Linked DNA regions of Homo sapiens. The protein of the gene in region 2 binds, or shares a complex with, the protein of the main gene of each other region. Each region holds a gene or a part of one and is shown on either strand. Other genes may lie near its edges.

Region 1 (7,473 bases), on a different chromosome or scaffold from region 2:
AAAGCTACAGGCTTCCTCACTAATCCTTTGTTTTAATATAGTGGGAAAACATAACCATGGTTTCTTCATGTGTATGTGCAGCTTTGCTGGATAGTGTGATGTCATGGAAAGCAGAGCGATTGTTGAAGCCACTAAACCAGCCACGGCTTTACTCAAGGAAAGCACTTCTGGGTCTTCTCATATTGCTATGGATTTCTCTTAATTGTTGGGAAGTTTTCCAACTGATGCTTCAAACTTTAGCAAGAATTAATGACCTAATGATAGGATTGAGTGATAGCAAATGTTATATCGGAAAAGAAGATTGTGGGAGGCCATGACTAGCTGTTTACAAATATACAAAAGGATGTCTTATGAAAAGCAAAACTTCAAACATTAGCATGTTGTGAGTGATCACATGAGAACCAACAAGGCTTTCATGATAATCTGATATTATGCCCCTATTTGCTAATTGTGTATGGCACAACCGGCCTCAAAGAAACATACTATAGTAGAGCAGACTGTGTTATGGTACTACACCATCCTAACTTTTGTTTTTCAGCCACCATTTGTAATGGAGAAGTGGATTGTAGGAATAGCAAAAAGTCAGACTGTGGAGTGCACTGTCACATATGAGGTAAGCTCTGGGGGCAAGAGGCTGGTGGCCTCACCATCAGTTAATGAATATAAATTTATCTGTTATCTCAGAGCATATAATTTATTGGGAGATATACCCAGAGCATATAATTTATTGGGAGTAAACCAACCAACATGAACATAGGAAGATCAATATAATTTCTCTCACAACGTGTTGGGAAGAAAAGAGAACAGGATAAACTTACCCAGATAGCGACTGAGGTAGTACTTCAGTCATTCATTAGTTATGGATTGAACACCTTCTGTATACCATGTAAGATGTTTGGTATTGGGGATACTAATAGTTAATACTAATTTTTTTTAAATCAACAAGATCTTCATGGCTGGTAGGACATACACCTTACAAGGTACGTAGACCCGGTGGGAGTGGGTGGAAGGCAACAGTTATAGTACAGTCTTGGCACACCTGGAAATATTAGTGTGCACCCACCATCAAAGGGACATGCATTTCATTCATTCATCAATTCATTCATTCAAGAAACATTTATTAAGGATCTACCATGAACCAGGCACTATTAGAGGTGCTTACACCAGTTTGATCACACTAACTTCATGTAAATCAATACTGAAAAATATCGTCCAGGCGCAGTGGCTCACACCTGTAATCTCAGTACTTTGGGAGGCTGAGGTGGGCAGATCACTTGAGCCCAAGAGTTTGAGACCAGCCTGGGCAGCATTATGAAACCCTATCTCTACAAAAAATACAAAAAGTAGCCAGGTGTGGTGGCACATGACTATGGTCCCAGCTACTCGGGAGGTTGAAGTCGGGGGATTGCTTGAGCCCAGGAGGTTGAGGCTGCAGTGAGCCGAGATCACACCACTGCACTCCAGCCTGGGTGAGACAGTGAGACCCCTGTCTCCAGAAAAAAAAAAAAATACTGAAAGATATTATTATCCTCATTTTGCAGATAGGAAGAATAGGCTCAGAGAGATGAAAGGAAGTCTTGAGGTGTGAGGTCCTCACTGACAGAATTGTTGAAGTCAATTCCATGTTTTCTGACTATAAAAAACACTTTCTGCGCTTCCCTGGCTACCCTGTTAGCTCCCAGTGGCTGCAGTAAGATGAAGTCCACCTCAAAGAGGACTCTGTGAGTGTGGCATTTTGATGGTTTCCTGGGCTGCCAGGATTTGGCTTTTCAATATTAGAAATACAAACCCTGGGCCAGGCACGGTGGCTCAAGCCTGTAACCCCAGCACTTTGGGAGGCCAAGGCGGGTGGATCACCTGAGGTCAGGAGTTCGAGACTAGCCTGGCCAACATGGTAAAACGTCATCTCTACTAATAATACAAAAATTAGCTGGGCATGGTGGTGCATGCCTGTAATCCCAGCTACTCAGGAGGCTGAGGCAGGAGAATCGCTTGAACCCTGGATGCAGAAGTTGTGGTGAGCTGAGATTGCGCCATTGCACTCCAGCCCAGGAGACAAGAGCAAAACTGTCTCAAAAAAGAAAAAAAAAAAGAAAAGCAAAGCAATACAAACTCTGGCCAGTCCACTTATCCAGGCTGGAAGCCAAAAAGTTTTACAGCAGTTATTTATCCTCACCTGCTGGGGTGCACAGGTTGTCAGGGATGAGGCATCTGAGAAGTTATATTACTTGTCAAAGCATTGCTTGCAAGGTGCAAAACCCAAACAAAAGAGGCTGGTTGGTCTTGAGGAACTTGGAAACTAGACTACTCTACAGCCTGTTAACTGGTCCTCACTACCCAGGAAAAGCCCTCTTGTTAGTAATCGGACAATTAGAACAACCAGATTCTACCTCTGCCTGCCTTAGACAGTTTTGGAGACAGCACACCCAGTTCTCTTTTTCTTCTTCTCTCTCCCTCCTCCTCCTTTTTCAGACCCCATGATGATATGCCACTTTTGTCTGGGTTTTTCACTTCAGAGTTTTTTAAAACAGATTTCCCTAACCATATTGAATCCTGGAGACTCTTTAATTGACACTGATTGGTGACAGCTAGTGAGGAGGGAGATTTCAGAACAAGAAAGTAATGTGTCTTGACCTAGTGTCCTCTCCTTTTCCTGGTCCCCATTTCTTACTTCTTGATCCTGTCTCACTTTTGCATCTGAGACCCTTTCCCCTCCGTGCAGGTAATTCACCCCACCACCTTCACTCAGTTTCCTTGATGATCCAAATTCAGTCTTAGGCAAACATGGTGGTCAGATTTTCATTTATTCAACAAAATAGCTGTCATCAAGTACTATAAATAGAAGATGTAATTTTTTATTTCTTATTAAACAAAGAGGTAAGTTGAGATTTGTCAAATATAATAAATTCTGGGAAAAGACAACCATATTTTTTAGCTACTATAGTTTACTAAGAAATTTATGTTATAATCCATTAAGGAATAAGTGCTATAACCCACTAAGAAATAAAGTGGTTAAAATTTTTCTTTTCATTGAATTAGCATATTTGGGCCAACTGTTCAGAATATTTTCCTAGTGCATTATGATAGTGTTCTAAGAGGTGAAACTGAAGTGATATAATAACCTGGATGACTTTCTTTCCCATTTTATATATGTGTGTCTATTTGGTCATATGTTTCTATTTGTCTTTTTTTTGTCTTTTTCGTTTGTTTGTTTTACCAGAGTGATGTTAGAACTCCAAAAAGCACTAAACATGTCCATTCGATTCAGTGGAGTAGAACAAAACCTCAGGATGAAGTGAAAGCAGTCCAACTTGCCATTCAGACATTATTCACCAATTCAGATGGCAACCCTGGAAGCAGGTCCGACTCAAGTAAGTTAGTGTTCCCGTATTAGATGTGTGCTAGATTCCAGAAACTTAATTATGACATTTCCAGATGATCTAAAGACTCAGAGGATACCACCTCAATCAGTTAAGATCTATCTTTGAGCTTCGAGTAGCAGAAAACCCAGTTGCAACTGGCTTACTCCAATAATTCCCCAAGTGTGGCCCCAGGACCAGGAGCATCGGGATCACCTGTGAACTTGCTAGAAATCCAGATGCTCAGGCCCAAACCCAGACTTACTGAATCAGAACTCTGGGGATAGGAGCTGCAGTCTGCATTTTAAGGAGCCTTCCCAGTGATTAAGAACAACTCTAAAGTCCTTAAGCCACTGATTTAAACTGTAATAAAATTTATTATCTTCCATAACAAGAAGCCCAGAGGTAGGGCAGGCTCCAGGTGCAGTAAGATAAGCTGGCTCAACCATATTCAGAGAGTGGAATGAACCTTCCCTTCTTTCTGCCCTGCCATGCTCAATAGGCTGCCTTTGCCCTCGGCTCCTCTCCTGTTTACAGTCATCACACAAAGATATCACAACGCCCAGAGGAAATAACGGGTTAGGTCCCTACCTGTTCTTATATATAGGAGTAAGGAAAACTTTTCTAGAAACCCCCAACAGACTACCCGTCAGCAATTCTGCTTTGGCCAGAATGGAGCAACCTGTCCGTTCCTAAACATAGCATGAGCACATCTGACTTAAACTAATTAAAGTCGATCCCTGGAGCCAGAATGCAGTCAACTCTCCCGATCACGTGGCTACATGGAGGGGGATGGAGACTGAGCAAAATCAGGGTTCTATTGGAAGGCAAAATTCCAGAGAAGTCAAGGCGAGGAAAGAAGGCATTGTGATTCTGTATGCTACTGCTCATGTGACGTATGTAAAGTAGTCAAAGTCACAGAAACAGGAAGTAGAAGACAGTTAACAAGTGGCGGTCAGGGGGCAGGGGAGAAGGGAGGGGAAATGGAGAAAGAGGAAGGTAGAGATTAGTGGGTATAGAGTTTCAGTGTTGCAAGATGAAACAGTTACAGAGATCCGCGCAACAATGTGAATATACTAACACTACTGAACTAGAGGCTTAAAAATGGCTAAGATGGAAAATGTGGTTTTTACCACAATAAAATACACACATACACACAACAACAACAACAGAAGAAGGCATTGTGATGGACTGAAGCCTGGGAGGAGTCTCTGGAATTGTCTGGACAAGTCACTCACTTCAGAGCTCGGGGTCACCTGTGCCCAGGCAGTGAGGAGACAGAGACATGTGCATGCTCTGATACTCTCCACGCGCACTATCTGCGTGAGCAGGGGGTGGAGTAGCTGAGGAAGCTGAGGCTGGGAGGACCACCCAGGAACTCTAGAACATGGGTAACGTTGTTCAGGCTCGGGGGAAAACAGAAAAGATCTCAGGTGTGAGGAACTTGCTTATTCACTGAAATATAGCTTACTAAATGGTTCTTGTTAATTCACCATTTTCTTTTATCTTAACTTCTTCCTATCTGCCAATGCAGCTTCATTTTTTTATGCTGAAAATACTTCTTATTCCCGAGCCTCAGGATCTCTCCTGTGGACACGTGAACGGTCTTTCTTCCAAACAATCTCTAGCTGTCTCAACCTTCGGAACCTCATTTCTCTTATCTGCATTTAGGGTCCTTGAGGTTTTAAAAATGCAGGTGGCAAAACAAACCTTTTGTTTACTAAACATGCCCCTGCCACCTGAACATACTTTCTAGAAGTAACAACACAACTATGTAGGAAGAAGATGGGATTTAGATGCAGAAGGACTTGGTATTATTGACTGAGTGATCTTGGGCAAGTCATTTGACCTCTCAAGCTTCCTCATTTATAGAATAAAACTATTAGTGTTTACCTAAGAAGATTACTGAGAGGATTAAATGAGATAGTGTAAGTAAAGCCCATGGAACAATGCCAAGCACATAGCATATATTGAATAAGTGTAAATGTCCTTATTTTTTAAAGTATTTGTAATAAAAGAAACGTCCTTATACATAGCCTAGAATTTCTATGAATGGTAAAGCTTAGAGCATCCCAAACAGCCCTGAATTATCCTAAGACAGGCGTATGAATTAGACATGCAGCTTTAGTGTGGCTTAAAAGATGCTCATTTCCATTTCTCCCGCAGGTGCTGATTGCCAGTGGTTAGATACTCTGAGGATGCGGCAGATTGCATCCAACACTTCTTTACAGCGTTCCCAGAGCAATCCTATTCTGGGGTCACCGTTCTTCTCACACTTTGATGGCCAGGATTCCTACGCTGCTGCTGTGAGACGGCCCCAGGTGCCCATTAAGTATCAACAGATTACACCTGTGAACCAGTCCAGAAGCTCGTCTCCTACTCAGTATGGACTGACCAAAAACTTCTCTTCCCTACATCTCAACTCTAGGGACAGTGGCTTTTCCAGTGGCAATACTGACACCTCTTCAGAGAGGGGTCGATACTCAGACAGAAGCAGGAACAAATATGGACGTGGTAGTATATCACTCAATTCTTCTCCTAGAGGAAGATACAGTGGAAAGAGTCAGCATTCCACTCCTTCAAGAGGAAGATACCCTGGAAAGTTCTACAGGGTTTCTCAGTCAGCACTCAATCCTCACCAGTCGCCTGACTTCAAGAGAAGCCCCAGGGACCTCCACCAACCCAACACCATACCAGGGATGCCTTTGCACCCTGAGACTGACTCAAGAGCCAGTGAAGAGGACAGCAAAGTCAGCGAAGGGGGCTGGACAAAAGTGGAATACCGGAAAAAGCCCCACAGGCCATCTCCCGCCAAAACCAATAAAGAGAGAGCCAGAGGGGACCACCGTGGATGGAGAAACTTTTGATGAATTGAACTACATAGCTTTTCTAAGCAGGTTAAAAAAAAAAAAAAAAAGAAATGTAATGGTTTTTGATAATATGATCCCTTCAGATTGAATTAACGAAAAGACAACACTTCCAGTTTTTGGATTGGGAAATACCTTCTAATTGAGACTATAGCCAAACCAGGGCCAAAATTATGGATATTGGTCACCCAGTGATCATAACTAGGCTTGAAAATCACTACACATATTTTCTGCCTTGAGTGAACATTTTTAGAGGAAAGGTTATGCCATCTTTTTACCCTAACCACTGATATTCTGGTTAGCAGGGCCAGGACAAGGGGAAGGAAAATGAGGTCAACAAAAAAATCAAATTTTTAGGAAAAGATAAGATGAATGTTACTGATTTTTCCTTTTGGCTGAGGCTGCAATATGGCCTGGCAAGGCACTGTTACTGATCTTGTCTTTAACATTTTGATATTTTGTTCATCATAATTTTTGCATTTATTTTTTTAAATATTGCATTAAAATATCATTTAGCTTGATTATCGAGTTTTTTGGTTTGAGGTTTTTTGTTGCTTCTTTTTTCTTTTCTTTCTTTCCCCCTCTTTTTTTTGGATGTCCCCTTAAATTTTGTGCCCAAGGCAGGTACCTCACTCATCTCATCCTTGGCTCAGCCCTGCTGGTTAGTATTTAGTATTTATTTTAGTAAGATATTTGTGTCTGTATGATGGTCAGAGTTGAACTGATCTGGCTTGTCATTTTTCAGTAATAAAAAAAGTTACTGAATTTAATGTTGAATATGATGCATATCTCATTCATTACGATTTATCAGAAACCAAAGATTTAAATTGCCTAGATTTGTGGTTCTTTCTCTTCCTAAGTTCCCAGCGACTGCTTTCAAATACTATTTTCTAAATTTCACCAAAGGAGCAAAGAGGATAAAACAACACTCCATAAAGGCCTCTTGGGATGTCAGAAATCTAAAATCTAAAAGAAAACAGACACAGAGCAAGACAATAACATCACAAGCTAAAAGCCAGAGAAATTTAAAATTACCAACATCCTTGTTGGAGTAAGACAGTAAATATCAGCCTTGCAGCAAGACAGCTCTGAGCAGCTGTGGGCAAAGAGGTAAACCAGTGGGGGTGCAAGGAGACTGTCTGCAGCTTAGGGCAGAAATGGTGGGATCCAACTTGTGAAATGCTTCATGTTTTACAAACCAAAAAGTCAGGTAGCAACAAACTTATTGTATGTCAAATCAATAAATG
Region 2 (7,695 bases):
TTGTATTTTCTTTCACCAATATGCTGTAGGTTACATCTTAAATCCCTTTAGTAGAAAGACTACTAAACAAACAAGCAAATAAAAAAAACTGCCTCTCTGGAAAGACACAAGACACTTAACAGTGCCTGTCTTTGAGAGAGTAGAGTGGCTGGAGAACAAAAAGGAAAGGAGACTTTTCACTGAATATCTTTTTTTTTTTTTTTTTTGAGACGGCGTCTCGCACTTTCGCCCAGGCTGGAGTGCAGTGGAGCGATCTCAGCTCATTGCAACCTCCGCCTCCCGGGTTCAAATCATCCTCCTGCCTCAGCCTCCTGAGTAGCTGGGAGTACAGGCGCCCGCCACCACGGGCGGCTAATTTTTTGTATTTTTAGTAGAGACGGGGTTTCACCGTGTTAGCCAGGATGGTCTCGATCTCCTGACGCTGTGATCCACCCGCCTCGGCCTCCCAAAGTGCTGGGATTACAGGCGTGAGCCACTGCACCCGGCCCACTGAGTACCTTTGTAAAACTTTCAAATTTTATACAATGTCAATGTATTTTAAAAAATCTGTTCAATAAAATAAAAGTACTTTTAAGTGTCAGATACTGCTGGCTTCTATACCACAGAAAAGTATACCACTAAAGAACTGTGGAGTTAATTTTAATGGTACTTCACTGTAAATCTGAATCTCCTGTTCCAGTGCAGAGCTAGTCACCAATAGTAGCGAACCCTTGCAAGCAATTCAATTGGAGTTCACCCAAACCCTCTATAGTTGAGTTATTCTGCTGTATCACTCCATTAAAATTTAAATAGCATTGAAAACGAAAACGTGATACTACAGAAATGTATGTCAATTCAAGAATGAAAAAATGGAAGTATATTAATGAGCTATAAAATATTAAAAGAGCAATGATCCAAATACGTCTTTGAAAATTAGCAAATCAACTAGATATATATAATATGTATATACTGAATGTATATACCTATATAATATGTATATACTGAATGTATATACCTATATAATATGTATATACTGAATGTAAAATGCTGCAAACCAACTACACACACACACTCTCTGAATGTAAAATGCTGCAAATTCCTTTAAAATGTAAACTGCCATGCTGTAAAAATGGGAGAAAGATGTCAAGCACGGTGCTATCTGCAACATAACTTAAGCAACTTGAACTAGAAAATGCAATATGATCTGTTGCTGGACACAATTGCACAATCTCAATTACCCAGAAGATTCTACCAAACAGGAAATTCATGATGTGACTTTGGGAAACACAGAAATCATATTTAAAGATTAACACATCCAAAAGCCTGGAATTTGTTCCAAAACAAAAAAACGATTTTACAGGCCCGTTTTCAAATGACGCATACAATACGAATTACTAAAACACAGAAAAAGCTAACAGTTAAATCTGATACTTAGTTTAAGATCCGTAGCTTTCAAATTATAGAAAATCTAAAATACAGGGTATAAAACCTTGGAAGTTAAGAGAGCAGTTAGTGAAATATTTCAGGTCTGGAAATTATATGCTATCGACTTAATTTAAAACACACTCACGGTGTAAATTAAAGCTAAAAAGTATCTCTTCCCTTCCTTTTCTATGTGGTTCCATATCCTTACGAAAACCATCGTGTACCTCAGGCCATAAATGCAGATAACTAGATAACTCCCTGCAAGCTCTCTAAGGGACTTTTAAAACACAGTATTCGCAGGAATTATCTCAAAAAATATTTACAATACCTCCCAGCACTGTTAATAACTTTTTGATCTTGAGGGCGCCTTACAGATCTGAATCTTTCTTGCTCCAAATGAGAAAATTGTTTTGTCGAACAATACTTAAATGAGCAGTGGTATGTGACTAATCAGTGAGCCTGCCAGTTTCTCAAGCTGCAGTGTTCTTGCAGGCACTACCACCGCCGCCCCTCCACGGAAAGGAAATACGCTTTCAACCGAATCGGAAACACACCACTCAAGCTGGCACAGTGCTCACCGAGATAAAGTCGGTATTTTAAGCTCTATGGATCGCTGTTAATTCAAGTGCGAATTCAAAAAGAACGCTTTTCAAGATGGGATTTCGACAGAGTTTTGAAAAAAAAAAAAAAAAAAAAAGGCCCGGAGAGAGCTCCCTTCCTGGTCAGTTTTGTTCAGATGACCGCAGTCTTCGGGTTGGGCTGTGCCCTTCTGCTTCTCCCGGCAGTTCCCCGAGCTTGTCTGCTCAGAGGACCCAGGGTCCGGAGCCCCAGCGTGGGCGCATCACGGGAGAGGGTCCTTCTGCTCCAGGTAGGCAGGGAGACCCCCAAGGAAGCGGCCCTTCCCCCGGTGCCTGTTGCCGAGCAGCAACCCTCCGAGAGGGGAAGGCGCAGGGTGCTAGCCAGAACCGAGCTCCAGCACCACCACCTACCTCTCGCAGCGGACCTGAGTGCTGCACACGGTGGACCGCATACCTGCGTGAGTGCAGGGCGAGGGGTGCTGGAGGTGCAGAACGGGCAGAGCTCGAAGGGGCAGCAATGCCCTCCCCCGAGGAAAATTCCTGCCACTTGACGCAACGCTGAGCAGTGGAGCAGGCCTGGCCCTCGGGCGCGAGGGGCCACCCTGCCCACAGCGGCCCCAGGCCCAGCGACACTCACCACACAGAGCCATAGGCGCCAGAGCCCACTGGAGACAGGTTCTGGTAACGCTCGGGCACCTCCCAGATTGTCTTGTTCAGCTCCTGCCGGTAGAACGTGGGCCTCTCCTGAGACATTTTCCAGCGGCAGCCGCCGGGCAAGAAGGTGGCCCTGTGGGGCCCCCGCCTGCACCCGCACCCTCTCCCCGGCCCTTGCTGCCCGCCCAGCCGGGCGGGGACCTTGCGCTGGTCGCCCGCGCAGGTGCGGCTGCCGCGACCCCGCAGACTCCCGCGCGCGCGGCTGCTGTCAGCCGCAGCGGCTGGATGTGCCCCTGCGACTGGGGCAAGCCCCGCTAAGGGCAGGGACGCGCTCCGGCGCTCAAGACTGCGCCCGCCGCGATCTCCCTGCACCTTCGCCCCTACAAGGCCGACTCCGGGCTGCGTCGCAGTACTCCCGTTCCAGCTGCTGCGCCCGCTAAGGCTCCAGTGGTCGCGGTTCCAAGAGCCAGCAAACGGGAGCCTCCCGCAGTACTCTCGCGAGAACAGCTCCCGGGACTCTCCGAGAGCCGAGATTTTACCCAATATGGAACCTCTCCGCGGGCGGGGCTTCGTGAGAGAAGAGGATGGGAGGAGCAGTTCTCGCGAGAAGAGAACAATAACTGGAGACCAAAGGCAGAAACTCCCAGGGACTGTCTCCTTAAGGGCGCGAAGGCGGACCGGGGAAGGAAGAGAGAAGCTGGCAGCACACGCCTCGCGCGCCTCACCGTGGCCGGCGGGGCAAATACCTGGCTCTGTGGTGGAAAACGACACTGACAAATAGCGTGTCGGGGAAAGAGTCAAAAGATCTTTAACTGCGAGTAGTTACCAGCAGCAGAGCACCTGCTCACCTGAACCCCCAAATTCCAAAAAACACTTGCATAAAAAAGAGACAAGTGGCCGGGCGTGGTGGCTCACGCCTGTAATCCCAGCACTTTGGGAGGCCGAGGCGGGCGGATCACCTGAGGTCGGGAGTTCGAGACCAGCCTGACCAACATGGAGAAACCCCGTCTCTACTAAAAATGCAAAATTAACCGGGCGTAGTGGCGCGCACCTGGAGTCTTAGCTATTCGGGAGGCTGAGGCAGGAGAATCGCTTGAACCCGGGAGGCGGAGTTGCGGTGAGCCGAGATCGTGCCATTACACTCCAGCCTGGGCAACAAGAGCGAAACTCCGTCTCAAAAGAAAGAAAGAAAGAAAGAGACAGGTTCCGGCCAGAAGGCTGTTGCATTCCCATCTGCTCAAGGACATATGGGTTACTCTTTGAGATGCTGACGAAATATGTCCCAAAGGCAAATGTTAACCCTGCATCAAAGCTGAGGCTTTCCAGGGGCTGGGCTCAGTGGCTCACACCTGTTATCCCAGCACTTTGGGAGGCCGAGGCGGGTGGATCACGAGGTCAAGCGATAGAGACCATCCTGGCCAACATGGTGAAACCTCGTCTCTACTAAAAAAAATACAAAAATTAGCTGGGCGTGGTGGCACGACCCTGTAGTCCCAGCTTCTCGGGAGGCTGAGGCAGGAGAATTGCATGAATCCAGGAGGCGGAGGTTGCAGTGAGCTAAAATCGCGCCACTGCACTCCAGCCTGGCGTCAGAGGGAGACTCCGTCTCAAAAACAAAAACAAAAACAAAAACAAACCGAAGCTTTACATTAAAACTCTCCCAGTTAAACTTACATGCAGAAAAATCACCCTGGGAGTTTAAGATGCAAGTTCCCAGAACTCACAGGGAGTCTAATTGGGTAGGTCAGAGGAGGTCTTGATCAAGAGCATGCATTTTTATAATACATCTTAGGTGATTCTGATTCAGGAAAGTCTCTGATATCTCCCTTTGAGAAGCATTTAAAAAACCGTTACACTGAAGATTTGAAACTGACTCCTATCCTGAAGAGCCATCAGTGAAGAGGATTTTAAGCATTTAACTCAGGCCTCTTCGAGTAAGGAGAATAGGGCAGGAGTCTCATCGAATTTAGGCAAGTCAACTGACCTTTCCTGAACCTCAGTTCCAGCTTCTACGAGAGAATTCCTGCCCTGCATTCCCGACTAACAGAGTCATTTGTAAAAACCAAACAAGATAAATGTGAATGGGCAAGGCATTCTAACCCCATGCCTACATCCATTATCAACCTATGCCTATGCTAAAGCTTGTTACAATGAGCAGAAGAATCAGATCCTGTCTCATTCTCTTAGTTTCTTGTATTAGAAATAACTAGATCCAAGCCAGGACATTTCTCAACATTTCCCGTGATTATTCTATTTTGTGTCATACACACCTTGGAGGGCTCAGACTTTGCATATCTTGTCCCAACATCTAGCACAATGTCTAGAACATAAAACATGTGTCATAAATATTTGTTGAAAAAATTATGAACAGTGACCATGATTTCAAGTGGTACAGTATCCTCAGTCCTCTTCAAGGAAAGCAATATAAAACCAAAAAACAGATAGTCATGGGTGATTCATGGAAAGCTGTTTTGGATCCAATGTAGCTTAGGCTGGAATTCTCTTATCTACAAAAACATGTTGCTTGAGAATGTTCCAAACTAGGGAGGATAGGAAGCTTTCTAAGAAGTAATGGAGGGTGAAGGGGAAGTAAGAGCAAAAACATGATTGTGAAGACATGAGGGATGGGGTTGGGGGGATCAAGGGAATGAGGGAATGGTTACAAAGGGTGAGGAGGAAGCTTGGAAGTAGGAATCCTCAGAAATGCACATTTTTATCCTACAAATTGGGATGATGAGGTGAGGGTGAATGAAAGGGTAAAGATAAAGTAAGCAGTATATTCATACACTCATTCAACCAATGTGTATTAAATGCCTACTAGGTGTCAAACACTTGCAGTTTAAAAGTGATTAAAAACTACAGTTGCTGCCGGTGTGGAGCTTACAATCAATGGGAGGGCAATCATTCAACAAAAATTAATTGAATACTTCCTATGTCCACCACACTGCTGTAGGCACTGATAATAAAACAGTTAATGAAAGGGATAAAAGTCCTTGCCCTCATAGGGGTAAGATGATTTACAAAAAGGAATACATAAAGTGCATTATAAGGTAGACATTAACACAGTCATCAAACAAACAAGTGTAAAACTGTAACTGGGCCAAGCAGGAATACAAGGTGGAGTGAGAGACAGTGCTAGGGACAGGGATAGGGTGGGAGGAGGGTAAAGGGAGTGAGTGCAGATGGCATGTCTGCATCCAGAGCAGATCTGGGCAGGAGGGTGTCATTCAGTGGGGAGAGCCGGGTTTGTGGGGCAGACAGCCTATGGTTGGAGACCTGGGTGACCCTCCTAGCCTCCATTTCTTTTTACCTCTTCTGACCTGAGGAAGGCTTAAGTCTTCCGGAGACGTTAGTGAATTACCGTCTGTGCAGTACACATGTGACACATGTGCACTGCTGTATGTTCAGGACACGAGGCCTGGCACCAAATAGGCCCTCGATCAAGAATAGCAAAACCTCGGAGAGAGAAGGAGCCTTGGTATACAGGTTTACCAAATACCAAGGGGATCCCACGACTCAGGTATGAGGAGGGCGACCCAGGTACCACTTTCCTGGCTCCCTAGCCCAGCTGCTCATGCTCCTCTTCCTCGTCCCCTCCCCCACTCTCATCTCCTCAGCCCGCCCGGAACGCCCGCGGGCTAGGCCACAACGGCTCGGGAACCGCCGCCGGTATCCGCGTCCGCAGCGCCGCCAGCCAGGCGAGAGCCGTGTGGGATCCCAGCGCCCGCACTCCCGCCCCCGCCAAGGAGCCAGGTGAGCCGCTGCTGGGAGACGCCTGGGCGCCGGGGGCTGCAGGTCCCAGGGCGGGGGCTGCGTCCGTCACCGGCAGGTACCCAGGTATGCCGCAGAGCCAGGCACGCCGTGGGCACTCAGTCAGTATCTGTGGAATGAATGAATGATGGTCGTCCCTGGGAGCTTATCTCTGAGGTATTGTCTCTACTTTCAAAGGCCGTGTGGATGGCAATGACAAGAGACAACAGTGTGTGCGTTTTGCAAGCTGCATCCTTTCAAATTCTCCTGTCTATATTGTCAAAAGCCCCAGAACTGACGTGCTACCTGCACCCCACCGCCTACCCCATCCATTTCCTCCTGAGGCCTGACTGCCCGGCCGTTCCTCTTCCTTTCAGACCCCACTGCTTTTGTTAATTTTGTTCCCTGTGACTGAATCCCCACCCCCACCTCCTTGCCCCTTTCTTTTCATGTCAAATGCCGTTGATGTGTCAGGGGCCCCGTGAAGCCTTCTCCAGCACCCCCACCCCAATAATGAGCATCTCTCCAACACACCATGTTACTCTATCCACATTGCATGGAAGGTGGTTGTCCTATGTTTATGTGTCCAATGGTCATCCGCTTAAGGACTGTCATCTTACTAGTCATCCCTAGCCACTAGCCAGAGTGACTAAAGGATCTAAAGGCCAGGCTCTTTGCTTATACCTTTTCTGTATTCCCAATACATTCTCCATAAAAACCTAGGTAGTAACAGGTGTAGGGTTGTTTCTGATGGAATTACAAATGCTTATTTTGAAAATTCGGAAGTAAATTTTGCCTTTCCGTGATTATAGAAAACATAAGAAAGTTAACAATATCAGGGGGAAGATATTCCTGCAACTAAACTAGCTTTCAAGATTTCATATTATTTGGGTCAATAGCTAAAAAATTGGATTGTATTTAAACTTTTTATTCTTGACTTTTTTTTTTTTTTTTTTTTTTGAGACAGAGTCTTGCTCTGTCGCCCAGGCTGGAATGCAGTGGTTTGATCTCGGTTCACTGCAACCTCTGCCTCCTAGGTTCAAGCGATTCTCCTGCCTCACCCTCCTGAGTAGCCAGGACTACAGGCACGCCATCATGCTCGGCTAATTTTTGTATTTTTATTAGAGACGGGGTTTCACCATGTTGGCCAGGCTGGTCTTGAACTCCTGACCTCAGCTGATCCAACCGCCTTGGCCTTCCAAAGTGCTGGGATTACAGGCATGAGCCACTGAGCCATGTCTGGCCTATTCTTTACTTTTAAAGCACTCTGAACACAGATAATGTAAATAATTAGATAAATGGATGGATG
Region 3 (7,473 bases), on a different chromosome or scaffold from region 2:
CATGGAGAATGGACTGTATCACTTTTTAATTGCTCCTGCCTTGGCAAACAGTGTCCTCTAATCTTGTTATATTTGGGTCATGCTCAGTGGTGGTATATAAAGCAGGTTTTGTTTTCAGAGATCTTTTTTGTTGGAATATGGCTGTATGTGATAATCTGATTAAGCAGATATGCCACTAATGTCTGCCACACAATAAGGCATGTTAGTGACTATGTCAATGTAGGCTTGAAAGCTACATTGATAGAGAAGTTGTCTCCCCGCTATTTGACTTCTTGAGTCGTTTCTTTGAACTGTCGAGAGTATTTTACAAGTGCTTTTCTGTTTGAGGTCATTTCACTCAGAGTATAGCAACTTAGTAAAATATGTAAAACATGTAGTATAGCATATGCCATTCTTATTTTAAGCTGCTTTTGGGGAGCCACTCTTGGGTATGGAAGTTGTAATAGTAGTTTTTGGAGTACACTTTATTATTATTACCGTCAGCCAGTACATGATTTTCCATTGCCTTATACGTTTTCCACTGTAGCATTAAAAAAAAAATTTTTTTTTTATTATTACACTGTAAGTTCTGGGATGCATGTGTAGAACGTGCAGGTTTATTACATAGGTATACACGTGCCGTGGAGGTTTGCTGCACCCATCAACCCATCATCTACGTTAGGTATTTCTGCTAATGCTCTCCCTCCCCTAGCCCCCAACCACCTGACCGACCCCGGTGTGTGATGTTCCCCTTCCTGTGTCCATGTGTTCTTATTGTTCAACTCCCACTTATGAGTGAAAACATGTGGTGTTTGGTTTTCTGTTCCTGTGTTAGTTTGCTGAGAACGATGGTTTCTAGCTTCATCCATTTCTCTACAAAGGACATGAACTCATCCTTTTTTATGGCTGCTACTGTAGCATATTTTTAGCTTTAAAATTCCAATTAGTCTCAGGTGAATTGTTAATGACAGACAGGTGTGACTTAGTAGAAAAAACTGGAGAGACAGTTGAAGTAATCTTTCTCATATTTTTCAGTGGCTAGATAGCATGTCTGTAATTTCTTAACTCTTTAGTTTCTTCTATTTCAAAACATGATAATGATCTCAAATATAACCTTCCTCCCAAAATCTCAGGGATACTTTACCAATCTATTGTTTGCTTTGGTGGGATTATAATAACTGTGATATAGGTTGGGAGGCCAAGGTGGGTGGATCACCTGAGGTCAGGAGTTCGAGATCAGCCTGGCCAATGTGGCAAAACCCCTGTCTCTACTAAAAATACAAAAAAATTAGCTGGGCGTGGTGGGACGCGCCTGTAATCACAGCTACTCAGGAGGCTGAGGCAGGAGAATCGATGAACCTGGGAGTTAGAGGTTGCATTGAGCCAAGATCGCACCACCGCACTCCAGCCTTGGCGACAGAGCGGGACTCTGTCTCAAAAATAAATAAATAAATAAATAAATAAATATGATATGATATGGGATATTCAAAGGTGTTAATGTTGTAAGGAAAGGAAAAATAACATTTCATATAAGGAGGAAAGGGTTGATGGAAAGCATAATCTATTATTGTGCCTGATCTTTGAGCTGCTAGGCACCTTATCAGAATGCTGTTTGAGGAGTGTTTTCATTATGTTTAAAGCTTTCAGAGAAAGTAGGATTTTCTGATACAAGTAGAAAAATAGAAAAAAGTAGATATGTTTTTCTACTTTTAAGAAGGGAAGGCTTACTAGGAATTATTTTTAAATGAATGAAAGAGTAGAAGGAGGAAGAATAGGCAGTATCCGTGTGTGATTTCTCTGTGTCAAACACCATAGATGTAGTTTTTTATGCACATTTTCTCTAATTCTCAAAACAGTGCTTAGATTATAATATCTGTGTTTGCATATTATGAAATTAAGGCTCAGAAAAGTTAAGAAATTTGTCTAGCATCATATAGTTAGGAGATAAAATTTTGTACCCAGAAATCTCTAACTCTGTATACCACACTGTGTATCAAACTAATGAGAAAGAATAGTGACACCAACGGTTAGGACTTCAGACATTTACATTTGTGCTGAATGTAGAAGAGGGTGCTTAACACTTGAAATGCGTGCTCAAGTACAATAGTTAATAATATGAGATTGTGTGGGGTATGATTGTGTGCCTCATCCCTGTTTATTGTATGCCCCAAGATTCTTTCATCTGCTGCAAAAAAGCACAGTGCAGATTATGTGTGGTATCACAGCAGGCATTACGGGCATGGGTATGCCTTCTGGATGCAAGGGTGGAATTGGAGGTGCTGTAGCCTTTAGAGGAGAAACCCACTTGCCTTGTTCAAATCAGTTGGCGTATAATGGTGGAAAGTTGTTATATTTGTTTATAATGATATGAGTTGAGCAAACTTGCTTGTTTTTTAAATTTTACGAATTTTAACTTTAAGTTCTTGGAACCAAGTGCTTTATTCCAAATAGGATATGATAATTATATTGACAAGTGTTGAACAATATGTCATTGTAACAGTTTTTCTTTGTGTAATTGACTTCAATAATCTTGAGGGTGTTTTCTGCACCTATTGTTAGAAAAGTTGGAGTGCCCTTGTAAGGGTTGGAGTGAGTGGTTCTTCTCTTGCCATTATAATTGACTGTAGTTAGCATATGGTCTAATTTATTTTAAGAGCACCTCTTAATAAGCCTTGATTTTGTTGAAAATCAGGCTAAAACCATCTTCCTTGCACTTCCTCATTACTTGGTTGTTAGCATAATATTAACTATTATTAGATCCCACATATCTCTTTATCTTGATCTAAAGAACATTGTTAGGGCTAGGAGTCCTGCAGTTTTCATTTAACCCATTTGTGATCTCTTGTGAGGAGGATGGAGCTATTGGTTATATGCCTGAATCATTTGGGAGGTATATATACTAATTTTTGCTGTTGAACCTCAAAGAACAATCAGGTTAGAAATACGAAGTAAGACTTAGAACGTTAAGCCTATGCCTGGGAGGCAGAATGTATATATATTAACCAGAGATGCTTGCATGTAGGGAGAATGCTGGAGAACCAGACTCCTGGAGCAGTTTATCCTATGAAATACCGTATGGAGACTGTTCTGTGAGGCATCATCGAGAGTTGGACATCTATACATTAACCTCTGAGTCTGATTCACATCATGAACACCCATTTCCTGGAGACGGTTGCACTGGACCAATTTTTAAACTTATGAACATCCAACAGCAACTAATGGTAAGTCAGAAAGCTTTTATTTTTAAGTATATGCATGTGTATGTGTGTGTTTTGTATGTGTGTGTCCCCGCCCTCCTCCAATGAACCTTGATATAATTAGAACATAAAAATGCTTTCCTGGTGGGAGGCTGAGACGGGCGGATCACGAGGTCAGGAGATGGAGACCATCCTGGCTAACACGGTGAAACCCTGTCTCTACTAAAAATACAAAAAATTGGCCGGCCTGGTGGCGGGCGCCTGTAGTCCCAGCTACTCGGAAGGCTGAGGCAGGAGAATGGCGTGAACCCAGGAGGCGGAGCTTGCAGTGAGCCGAGATCACGCCATTGCACTCTAGCCTGGGCAACAGAGCGAGACTCCGTCTCAAAAAAAAAAAAACTTTCCTGGCCAGGCACAGTGGCTCATGCCTGTAATCCCAGCACTTTGGAAGGGCCAACACAGGTGGATCACTTGAGCTCAGGAGTTTGAGACCAGCCTGGGCAACATGGAGAAACTCTGGCTCTACAGAAGTTAGCTGGGCATGGTGGCGTACGCCTATAGTCCCAGCTACTTGGGGGTCTGAGGCAGGCAGATCATGTGAGCCTGGGAGGCAGAGGTTGCAGTGAGCTGAGATGACACCACTGCACTCCTGCCGGGGTGACAGAGCAAGACCTTGTCTCAAAAACAGAAAAAGAAGGACTTTCCCCAAAGATTCTGAGACCTGTAAAGCAGTATTAGCAGTATTAAATGTTACCACTTACAGATCAGAGCTAGCATTAAGGTTGTAGCCGTAGGGGGACTGAGAGGTTTTTTTCATTGGTTTTGGGAATAATGGAAGACACACATTTCAGGTACAGAAATATGCAACAACTAGAACTAAATTTCTGGCATAAAAGGATATTTGTCTGTGTTTGGCTTAACTTTACAAAATGAAAGAACCAACAGTTTCTGAGATTGTTGCCAAAGAACAAGAACCAAATTTAATCAGGAGTATTTTTACAACTATTTTAGTGGCGATGATATGTACCATTTAAATATAGTGTTACTATATTTAAATCAATAGTTGTATGGTACAAAGATAGCTAAAAAAAACAGAAAAGATTTTATAATCCACTCAAGTCTTCAAGATAAAGTTGTTGCCAGACATAAAAACATTACAGACTCCCTGTTAGCATTTATTACGAATAACATAAACGTCATATGTGTACATCTCTCTTGGGCATAACATCTGAAAGGCTGTGTTTAGGTAATTTTTCCACCCAGTTTATTTCAGAGCTGATTTGATTTGGAAACCACTGGACAGTAATTTCATTTAAGGTCAGCTCAATGCCAGAGGCTTCTTTGGGAGCATGCATTATTTGAGACCAGCAAGCCAAGAAATTCCATAGGGTTATGTGATGCTCCCACTTTTGTGTTTTAGAATTGTGTTTGTTCCAGAGCACGTGACATTTCATTTTCCTCTGAATGGACTTCTAGGCAATCAGGTTTTTCCTTAGAGCTCTTTTTACTAGGTGAATGGTAGTTCACTTGAAAATATAGTTTTGCAGGTACCAAAGCTACCTGCCAAGATATGGAAATGGTTGGCAGGCAAATACGAGAAATTAAAACTGTGGGAACATACATGTGCTACTTTCTTTAGGCAACACTACTTGTTTCGCCAGATTTCTGTTTTATAATGTTTACCATTTATTAAATTTAATGACTTCATTTCCTGATTTTTAGGAGACTGTCGTACTCTCAGCAGGACTGGAAATAAGCTAATTTTGAATACTCTTAAGGAGCCTAACACAGAAGCTTTTAGTGAAAGTCCATTTTGCTTGTACACTCTACTAGAAAGACTTTAACAAGCATGACACATTTTACACTTGTACATATAAACTTTTACAATAGGCTCAGTAGGTAGATAGGAATGGTCTGATGATGGAACCCTGTAAGTGCCCAATATATTCACTGAGTGAGTAGGTGAATGAGAGGATGGATGGCAGTAGGTATGCATATTATTGCAGTAGATCAGGTAATGAATGAATGGCGAGCAAACCAGATGTTTGGAAAAATAGATTTTAGGTGTTGAGAAAATATTTTTATAAGAATTTTTGAAATTTTGATATAAAGGTAAAATCACTAAAGATCACCTGTATTTGTTTTTCTCCATTTTAAACCTTGCTGCATGCACATGGGATTTTTGCATATTTATAAACTTAGATTAATAATTTTTTTCTAATTGCAATATGGTCCTCATAGTTAATAATGGCTAGTATTTCTTCCATCAGTTTTATGAACCTTGATTTTCTTAATCATTCCCATGCTGTTGGTTATATCTGTTTATATTTTTTAAATACTTTAAAGTTGCAAAATCCATTTTTGAGATTACATATAGTATCCATAATATACTCTGACAGTATATAGGTATATGTTCTCATTTATTTTATATTTAATATGTTCTGATTTTATCAAAAGGTGAAAGAATATCTGCCATGCCACTGTTCCTGAAATTATGACCCCATAACTCGATGGTTAAGTTAGATTGGTTGGAACATATTTTGGGGATTAAAGGACACTGAACTCAGTAAGTATTTAGGGCACAGGCACATTGGCTGCACCTTGTAATGGAAAAGAGCTAGGATTTGTTTTTACTTGTATATATGAGGCAGGGTGTAAGTAGACTCTGCCCTTCTGAAGACAATGAAAAATATAGGTGGGACACAGTGGTGTAGGCCCTATAATCCCAGCACTTTGGGAGACCAAGGTAGGAGGATCCCATAGGCTCAGGTGTTGGAGAACAGCCTGGGCAACATAGTGAGACCCCGTCTCTACAAAAAATAAAACAATTAGTCAGGTGCAATGGTGCACACCTGTAGTCCTAGCTACTGAAGAGGCTGAGGCGGCAGGGTCACTTGAGCCCAGGAGTTCAAGGCTGCGGTGAGCTGTGATCACACCACTGCACTTCAGCCTGGCCTCAGAATGAGAGAGCCCACCTTAATGTTAGCAGCTCAATTGAAGATATTCACTGAGCTTTTTAAAAATCAGGTTTTTGAGACTCTTTTATTTTTATTTTTTTTAAGACGGAGTTTTGCTCTTATTGCCCAGGCTGGAGTGCAGTGGTGCTGTCTCGGCTCACTGCAACCTCCGCCTCCCGGGTACAAGCAATTCTCCTGCCTCAGCCTCCCAAGTAGCTGAGATTACAGGCATGCACCACTACGCCCAGCTAATTTTGTATTTTTAGTAGAGACAGGGTTTCTCCATGTTGAGGCTGGTCTCGAACTCCTGACCTCAGGTGATCTGCCTGCCTCAGCCTCCCAAAGTGCTGGGATTACAGGCATGAGCCACCATGCCCGGCGAGACTCAGTTTTCATCTACTTCCTAAAATAAGTTCAAAATTTAGAAAATAGATATTTCATATATCCTAATCTATTTTGAACATCCCAGTATATAGGCAGATATGAAAGGAAAGTAATATCAGAAATAAGAGGAAATTTATTTGTATTCTTTTAGATTCGCTTATCATGTGACCTTAGAAGAGCTAGAATAGAAGTGAGTTCTGTCCAACAGAATTTTTGCTCAGAGGTGTCAGTGACATCTTCTCCTACAGGCAGTTTTTTAAAAGTGTATTTCATTTCCTCCTAGAAAACAAACCTCAAGCAGATGGACAGTCTTATGCCCTTAATGATGACAGCACAGGATCCTTCCAGTGCCCCAGAGACAGATGGCCAGTTTCTTCCCTGTGCACCGGAGCCCACGGACCCTCAGCGACTTTCTTCTTCTGAAGAGACTGAGAGCACTCAGTGCTGCCCAGGGAGCCCTGTTGCACAGACTGAAAGTCCCTGTGATTTGTCAAGCATAGTTGAGGAGGAGAATACAGACCGTTCCTGTAGGAAGAAAAATAAAGGCGTGGAAAGAAAAGGGGAAGAGGTGGAGCCAGCACCTATTGTGGACTCTGGAACTGTATCTGATCAAGACAGCTGCCTTCAGAGCTTGCCTGATTGTGGAGTAAAGGGCACGGAAGGCCTTTCGTCCTGTGGAAACAGAAATGAAGAAACTGGAACAAAATCTTCTGGAATGCCCACAGACCAGGAGTCCCTGAGCAGTGGAGATGCTGTGCTTCAGAGAGACTTGGTCATGGAGCCAGGCACAGCCCAGTATTCCTCTGGAGGTGAACTGGGAGGCATTTCAACAACAAATGTCAGTACCCCAGACACTGCAGGGGAAATGGAACATGGGCTCATGAACCCAGATGCCACTGTTTGGAAGAATGTGCTTCAGGGAGGGGAAAGTACAAAGGAAAGATTTGAGAACTCTA
Region 4 (7,473 bases), on a different chromosome or scaffold from region 2:
TGCCTAATTTATAAACTACACTTTATTGCAGGTGTGTAGGTATTGGGAAAAGCATGGTATGTGTAGGGCTTGATACTCTCCATGGTTTCAGGCATCCACTGGGGTCTTAGAACATCTCTCCTGCACATACCGGAGGACTACTGTGTTGGCCACAAACTCAGCCTCCATTTCTGAAACTAGCACCCTTCTCAGGGATGGGCCAGCCAGGTCTGGCCACAGCCTATTCCAGGCTTGTGAGTCTGAGGGATCAGGCAGTGGTAGCAGGACTGAGTCCTTTGTACAAATTGGCACCTGTGGTTCTGATCTCAGTAGCCCTTGCCGAGACTGAGCTATGTGGCCCGCCATTTTAAAATGGCGGCTCCCATCCACAAACCCAGCCCAAGAGGTAAAAGAATAGATGGAAGCAATTCTTTACTTTGTCTTTTTTTACTGCCTCACAAATCACAGGAGGCAAGAATATCTGAGAGAGAGAGAAGGAGAGAGAAGCCAGGCCAACCCAGCGGCCAGCTAGAGGGGCAATTTAAAGGCATCAGGTAGGAGAGAGAGAGACTCCTGTTGAAACTGGGAGACACTGGAGTAGCAGAAATGCAGAACCAGATGGACTGCAAACCTTGCATGCTCTGAGTGGTGAAAGGACCTCCTGGGAGTGTTGCAGCAACTCGCTGCCACAGCTGGGGTGGCAAGTAACTGTGTATGCCTCCCCCACCAGGACGAGCTCAACATGCATCGTGGAACTCAGTAAACCCAGAAAGCTGTGACACTCTTAGACACAGAAAAGGAAAGGGGCCTAGAAAAGCTTTCTTGCCCTACGGGCTAAAGGTCAAAAGACAGGAAGTCCTCAGCAGAGCTAGTCCAGAGTTTACTGGGGAGATCACAGCATTAGAGAACCCCTGCTTAAAATGAGACACTGTCCCTGCATTCAATCAGGAGGTCAGGAGCCAGTGTGGGCAGTGCCAGGCCAAGACCAGATCAGACTGACTCAGGAATGGGGCAAAAAATAGTTTCCAGGGAATAAGGAAAACCTGGGCTCACCTCAATGCCAAGAAGTTCTGCCTGCATGCAAGGAGCTTAGCCATGGAGTGTGCACAGCCGTCAGTCAATTTGTTGTTGAATAGACTGTTCAGTTCCAGAAGAGAGGAGACACAGAAGCAAAGCACATTGGACAGTGAGCACCAAATCCCAGGGTTGCCCTTCCCCTCTGGGCAGGAATCACCTGCACCCCCCATCATGCAAACAGCCCCTGCCCCAGCCCATCACTCACAGCTTCCCAGGCTGCACGACCTGGGGTGAGACCAGGGCACTTGGAGCCCATTGTCCACAGCCCAGGCTGACTTACGCTAACTTCTGCAATTGCTCGCAGTGAAGAGCACATTCAATGAGCTTGCAGATGCCTCGGTCTGAGATATTGTTATCGCGCAAACTAAAGAGACAAAATAAATACATTTGAAAATGGAGCTAGTAAGACAAGAAAAAAATCTACAAATCCCCCAAAAAGACTTTCATTCATCCCTGAAGTGCCAGCATCTGTGCTTCCAGGAAACCCTGCATAGATGGAGCACCCCAAAAAAGTGGAGACCCCACGGTCCCTGGCCAGGGAGGTGACGTGGTGCACTATGATGGGGATGGCCCAGGACGTAGGATCCAGACCCCCTACTAAAGAACCCTGGAATCCTTAGGAAATGACAGAGCTAATTTGAGGCAATGTTTCCATCTCTGCAAAAGGAACATGATAATCACAGCAGCCTCACAAAGGGGATGATGGTGGAAAGGAGCTGATATATGCGAAAGGTGCAGCCTGAACTAGACAGGCTACCCCTGGGGACAATTTACCATCATCTAGGTCAGCAGACAGTAGACCAGCTGGATGAGAGTGGCCAAAACTTCAGAAACAGGCATATAGGCTGTGGTTAGTGAGGCCCTGCTGCCCAGTCCTTAACCCCAATGGCACCACTCCAACAGGCTAGTCCCTGCCGAGCAAGCCCTGTCTGCCACTCCTCTTGGGGCACCATTCCCAAAACTCACCTGATCACAACATCATCTGAAAGCTTCCCTAAAAGACAGATTCTCAGGCCCATACCCTGGAGCTGGCAATCAAGTATCTGCGGGGTGGGGCCCAGGAATCTGTATATTTTAACAACTGTGCACATGATTCTTTATCTTTAGGCAAACTTGGGAGGCCCTGACTGAATGGTTAACAGCTCAGGCTCTGGAGTGCCTCAGCTGGATATTGTGATCCTGATCAGCGACTTACTAGTTATTTGCTGGTCTCTTCATCTATAAAAGAGGGAACAGGCCGGGCACGGTGGCTCACGCCTGTAATCCCAGCACTTTGGGAGGCCGAGGCGGGCGGATCACGAGGTCAGGAGATCGAGACCATCCTGGTTAACACAGTGAAACCCTGTCGCTACCAAAAATACAAAAAAATTAGCCGGGCGTGGTGGCAGGCGCCTGTAGTCCCAGCTACTTGGGAGGCTGAGGCAGGAGAATGGCGTGAACCCGGGAGGCAGAGCTTGCATGAGCCGAGATTGTGCCACTGTACCCCCTGCCTGGGCAACAGAACGAGACTCCGTCTCAAAAAAAAAAAAAGAGGGAACAATAGTATTATCAGCCTCACCAGGCTGTGCACATAAAGCCTTGTGAGCACCCGGTACACAGTAAAAGTCACCTAGAATCATGATCGCTAGCACTGATCACTACCCTTACCACTTCTCAATAATAACACTATTTCATCCTCACAACAAGCCAGTGAAATGGGAACCATTATTATGAGCATTCGTGAGAAAGAAACTGAGGCACAGACAAGCGAAGTGACTTTGCCAAGGTTGTACGGCACATAAAGGCTTTGAGCCTAGGCGGCTTGGCTCCAAACCCCACTCTTAACCATGACATTGTGCAGCTTCTCCCTCAGGGCCTCTTATGGCCACTTCTGTAGTGCAGTGATTTTTCAGACTGCAGGTTGCAGGTCATGCAAATCATTTTGAAGGTCCTGAGCAGCATTTCTAAAATGGAAATAGAACAGAACAGAAGAGAGCAGAGTGTCTCAGAGTTCATAAAGCGAAGTCATTTTGTGAAACTTAGGTTCCATGTTTACATGGTGGTGCGTGCTCTCTCTCTCTCTTTCTCAATCATTGTGGGTAACATTCAAAAAACTTTTAAAGCCATCACTCTAGAGTCTGAGAGAGCCAGAGTCTAAAGAAACCTATATAGGGGCACTGTGTATATAGGGTTTCCTAGAGGCTGAGGATTTCAGTTGGCATGGAAACACTTCAAGTGGGAGAGAGGCAGGTTGGCACTGTGGGAGAGGAGCCTGTGCCCTCCCCCTTCCTCCCTTCCTCTCTTTCTCAATCTCTCTCTCTCTCTCATACACACACACACACACACACACACACACACACACACACACAGTGCACTCACAGCAACCTCATGGTTGCTTCCCCTCCCCTACGGCCTTGGCAGTTTTAGTGTGTGTAAGGTGAAGAGCAGTAAAACTCGCTCAAGGACAGTAATTGCTAATGGAAAACCAAGCTGGTTGCTGCAGACCAGTAGTTCTCCCAGGGCGAGACCACTTGTATCAGAATCACCAGGGGTGTCTGTGAAAAATATAGATTTCCTGGGCCCCACCCCAAACCTACTGAATGGGAATCACTAGAGGCAGGCCCAGGAATCTGCATTGCCACGAGTGCCTTTACACACCACAGTCTGAGCACCATGAGCTAGAACCAGGCCACCCTCACCTTTCTCTGAACACAGAGACAGACCCACAGGTTTCCCAGAGCCCTTCTGCACACCCTGGTAATCACGGGGACATCCCTAATCAAGGATGGATGATCCATTCAAGAATTCCAGAGATGGACTGGCCTATGAGGATCACACAGGCCAGTGATGCCTGGCCTCTTGGGGTAAAAACTGAGTCTACTACCCAGGAAAATGCACATTCTTATTTCTATCAGGGAAATTGCTCCAACAGACAGGTTTCCAAATTCCCACTCAAAGTATCATGATCCTCCCTCCTAGGGAAATAGAGTTTGGTGCTGGCTGTTTTCCATTTGCCTGGCCAGATCCACTCTCCCCCTTCTCTACCCGTCCCTGGCTCCTGGGAGGCTGATGCCTGGGGACTACTCCAGCAGACAGCCCACTCGGCCTCCCTGATGGGTCCAGCTGGTGGAAGGCGCTGGCCAGGAGCAAGAGTTGGGGTGAGGAGTTAGGGCCAAGCGGTATTCTTCCACTTTGCAGAAGCTCAGGCAGCCGTCTCCATACCTTCCCCCCAGCTAATTAGTCTCCCTCCCCTTCCCCCTTCAAGTCTACCCTCCCCCAGCTGTTACTAACCCCAGGCCCCTGCACCAACCCTCTCACTCTTCCTAACTCCTGCCCATGGCTTGTAAACAATCTGTTTTTCAAACTCTCCTCAAAACACCCATTTTAAGTGTGTCATCTGTTTCCTCCAAGACCATGATGGGTATAATCATATTTACATTCATTGCATATAATACATATATATATTCGCTATATATGTTATGTATTATGTTGTTATTATGCTTTAACCTAAAGACCATGGTCCCTATGTCAGGGTTAACAAAATTCACTACACAGTTTCTAGTGGGTATCCATGTGTTTGGTCCATGATGAAAAATAAATCTTGTTGCTTTGCCCCCAGAGAAGATGTATACCATCCTAATACTCTCAGGAAGTGGTTTGTCCCATGCTTAGGGTCAATTAAGGTCATCCAGGTGTAGCCCAAAGCCCCTGGAGGCTGGGAATCAATTTTAACTTCAATCTAGAACTTCTGCTTTCCTATAGGTTCTAAATAGAAGCAGGGCAATCCCCTTTCAAGCTGGAAGGATGTTGGGGAATCTGTCGCATGCTGATCCGCAGGCCTAGGCACACCCTCTGCCCTTGCCTGCCCCCAAGATGTGGAAAGAGGCCCCCGAGTTCAGGGGCACAGATTCTCCAAAGGGCAAAACCTCACATCTTTGGCTGGGGCTCTAAGCAATACGGGTAGTGCTGAAATCCTGTTTGGACACTGTGCTACCTCAGGAATCCAACAGTAGTTGTAACCCTGCAGCCACTTTCTATTTCTTGGGTCCTGAAATTCCCATCTGGTTGGGGTGTTAAAGTCTCTGATGGGGCACAAGTCACCTCTGATTTGGTGTTGTTCCTGATACGGACACATACTACACAAAACTTTCTGCAAGTGACCTCAAGGTTTTCAGGGAGCCTCTGAAGTGTATCCATAGACTGGTGGGAGGCAGAAAACCTGTAATCAGAATGATGCAATTTGTGAACCCCAGCTCTGCCATTTCCTGGACAAGTTACTTCACTTCTCTGAGCCTCAAGTCAAGGATAATGGAGATAATAACATTCCTGCCTACCCGCCAGGGTGGTTGTAGAGATTAGATGAGGTCATTCCGGAAAGCATAGCACCAGACCCAGCACATAGGCCAGTCAATAAAGTGTGGCTGTCATCATCACATATTGAAATTAAGGCCCAGAAGGGAAGGGATCTGGGCAGTGTTGCAAAGCAGGGTGGCAGAGGCGAAGCTGGGCCCAGACTTCTAGAGCCCAGCTCGGTGCTCCCACACTTAGCCTTGATGGTGCTCCCCCATACCTGAACAGCAATGCCCAGTAACACTCACTACAGAGCCTTGCAGACACCAAGGCAAGGCAGCAGCTGCTCCACGCCAATGTCACCCACAGAGTTGTAGTCCAGCTGCAGGGCCACGGGCCGCCGGAGGTGCTGCAGCACAAAGGCCAGGGCAGCACACTCAGTGGGGCCCACACTGCAAAATGTCAACTTGAGGTGCCCAACATTCAGGCCACGTGCAGCCTTCCGAGCCAGCCGCTCCTCCTGCATCTCGTACAGGCTCCGGATGAGCCAGATGAACCCGGGCATGGCATGCACGCTCTTGGCCTCACCCGGTGCAGCTGGCGGGATGGAGTGGAAGTGCTTGCGGAGGCTGCGGGCCAGACACCAGCGGGCACAGGCCTGGCGCCGGAGCAGGGCCTTCTCAGATGTCTGGCACTCAGCCAGCAGGCCCCAGTGCTCCCGGGACAACAGCCCTGCCAGGAAGGCTGCTGTGATCTGAAGGTTGTGCGGCTCGGCCTTCTGCAGCAAAGCTGCCACGCTGCTGTCCTTTCCCTCCGAGGCCTGGATGCACATCGTGGGCAGGAGCCTGGCCATTGGTGAGTTGCCTGGCCTGCCACAATTGAAGAGGTGTCTGAGCAAAGCTGGTGGCACATCAGCACTGAGTGCCAGGTAGAACGCGGCAAAGAAGCACTGGAAAGTGATGTGAAGGAATTCCAGGGGCGCCGTACTCCCTGGCACGACACCTTTGGCACGCACCAGGAAGCCAAGAGAAATGTCATCAGGGCTGACCTGTGCTGCCTGGAGCTGCTGGGCTGAGAACACGTAGCAGCACATGCCCAGGCCCCACAGAGCCAGTCTGCCCAGGTGCAGGAGGGTGGGGAGGCGGCCCCGAAGAAGACTGGGTCCCAGACCTTGGGAAGCTGAGTCTGGGGGGGTGGCATGCAGCAGAAAATGCTGCAGAATCAGCAGGTACATATCTGTAGTGGTCTTTGGGGACCCCCCCTCCTGCAGCAACAGTTCCTGGTGGCATTTGGACACCATCCATGAGAAGACAGGCAGGTGGCACAAACCGTGCAGGGCTGAGGTCTCTTGGAGCAGGCGGATGAGGCGGTCCGCCACCCCGGGCTCATGATGGCGCTTCCTCAGGTACAGCTCGATGCCCTGTTCAGAGAAGCCCTTGAGGTTGAACTCGGTGCGGATGTACTTCCTGAGGAACGCCGACACAGCGGCCGGACGGCTGGTCACCACCTTGCGGGCATTCTTCAGCAGGTTGCCCTGCAGAAGGTTGAAGAGCAGGGTCTGGACAGAGGTGGGGTCGGTCGGGGAGCAGTGGCGTTCACGATCCGTGAACCTGAACTTGAACTCGTCAAAGCCATCAAAGGTTAACAGGACACGGTCAGGGTGGTCAAGGAGTAACTGGAAGATGTCTTCTTGACCAACATCAGGCCAACAGCAGTGCTCAAAGAGTAGAGTCCGCACAGAGAGTGGTTTGGCCATGCACTGCAGCTGCCGGCAGCTGAATGGGAAGACAAAGAGAAATTCCTGGAAGTCTTGCCCTGCAGCCCACAGCAAGTGCAGCCGCTGCAGGAGCGTGCTCTTGCCACTGCCCGCCTCACCCACCACCAGCACAGTGTCCGCATCGTCATTGAGGTGGCCAGGGGTGCTGAAGAGCTCCTCCAGGCCCAGGGTGGCTGGGCTCTTCTGCGGGGGTCCAGCCATGCCCACATCTGCCCAGACCTCCAGGACATTCTCTGTGTATATGTCCTCCAGGCAGAGCGTCTCTGCTCCATCATAGGTACTGAGGAAGCGAGACTGAGCAGACACCGTGGTCCTCAGCTTGGCCATATACTTCTTGCATGTGGCAGCTGGAAGGCAGAAGAAGAGGCAGA

Evidence for each region.
Region 1: MAPK14 (region 2) and MAP3K20 share a complex: the UniProt entries of both Homo sapiens proteins name them as parts of the signaling complex.
Region 3: MAPK14 (region 2) and AKAP13 share a complex: the UniProt entries of both Homo sapiens proteins name them as parts of the signaling complex.
Region 4: MAPK14 (region 2) and NOD2 share a complex: the UniProt entries of both Homo sapiens proteins name them as parts of the signaling complex.

What each region holds. Positions count from the first base shown.
Region 1 is NC_000002.12:173,260,525-173,267,997, forward strand, and holds part of MAP3K20 (mitogen-activated protein kinase kinase kinase 20), read left to right. Parts: intron 1-538; coding exon 539-613; intron 614-3,220; coding exon 3,221-3,371; intron 3,372-5,525; coding exon 5,526-6,226; 3' UTR 6,227-7,473. UniProt on the Homo sapiens protein: Stress-activated component of a protein kinase signal transduction cascade that promotes programmed cell death in response to various stress, such as ribosomal stress, osmotic shock and ionizing radiation.
Region 2 is NC_000006.12:36,023,198-36,030,892, reverse strand, and holds the start of MAPK14 (mitogen-activated protein kinase 14), read right to left. Parts: upstream 3,086-7,695; 5' UTR 2,736-3,085; coding exon 2,620-2,735; coding exon of another isoform or gene 2,394-2,619; intron 2,080-2,393; exon of another isoform or gene 1,983-2,079; intron 1,806-1,982; exon of another isoform or gene 1,733-1,805; intron 1-1,732. UniProt on the Homo sapiens protein: Serine/threonine kinase which acts as an essential component of the MAP kinase signal transduction pathway.
Region 3 is NC_000015.10:85,572,130-85,579,602, forward strand, and holds part of AKAP13 (A-kinase anchor protein 13), read left to right. Parts: intron 1-3,001; coding exon 3,002-3,200; intron 3,201-6,800; coding exon 6,801-7,473. UniProt on the Homo sapiens protein: Scaffold protein that plays an important role in assembling signaling complexes downstream of several types of G protein-coupled receptors.
Region 4 is NC_000016.10:50,710,534-50,718,006, reverse strand, and holds part of NOD2 (nucleotide-binding oligomerization domain-containing protein 2), read right to left. Parts: intron 7,450-7,473; coding exon 5,634-7,449; coding exon of another isoform or gene 5,633-5,633; exon of another isoform or gene 5,370-5,632; intron 5,255-5,369; coding exon of another isoform or gene 5,254-5,254; exon of another isoform or gene 4,418-5,253; intron 3,000-4,417; coding exon of another isoform or gene 2,999-2,999; exon of another isoform or gene 2,526-2,998; intron 2,399-2,525; exon of another isoform or gene 2,252-2,398; intron 1,421-2,251; coding exon 1,337-1,420; intron 1,117-1,336; coding exon 1,033-1,116; intron 1-1,032. UniProt on the Homo sapiens protein: Pattern recognition receptor (PRR) that detects bacterial peptidoglycan fragments and other danger signals and plays an important role in gastrointestinal immunity.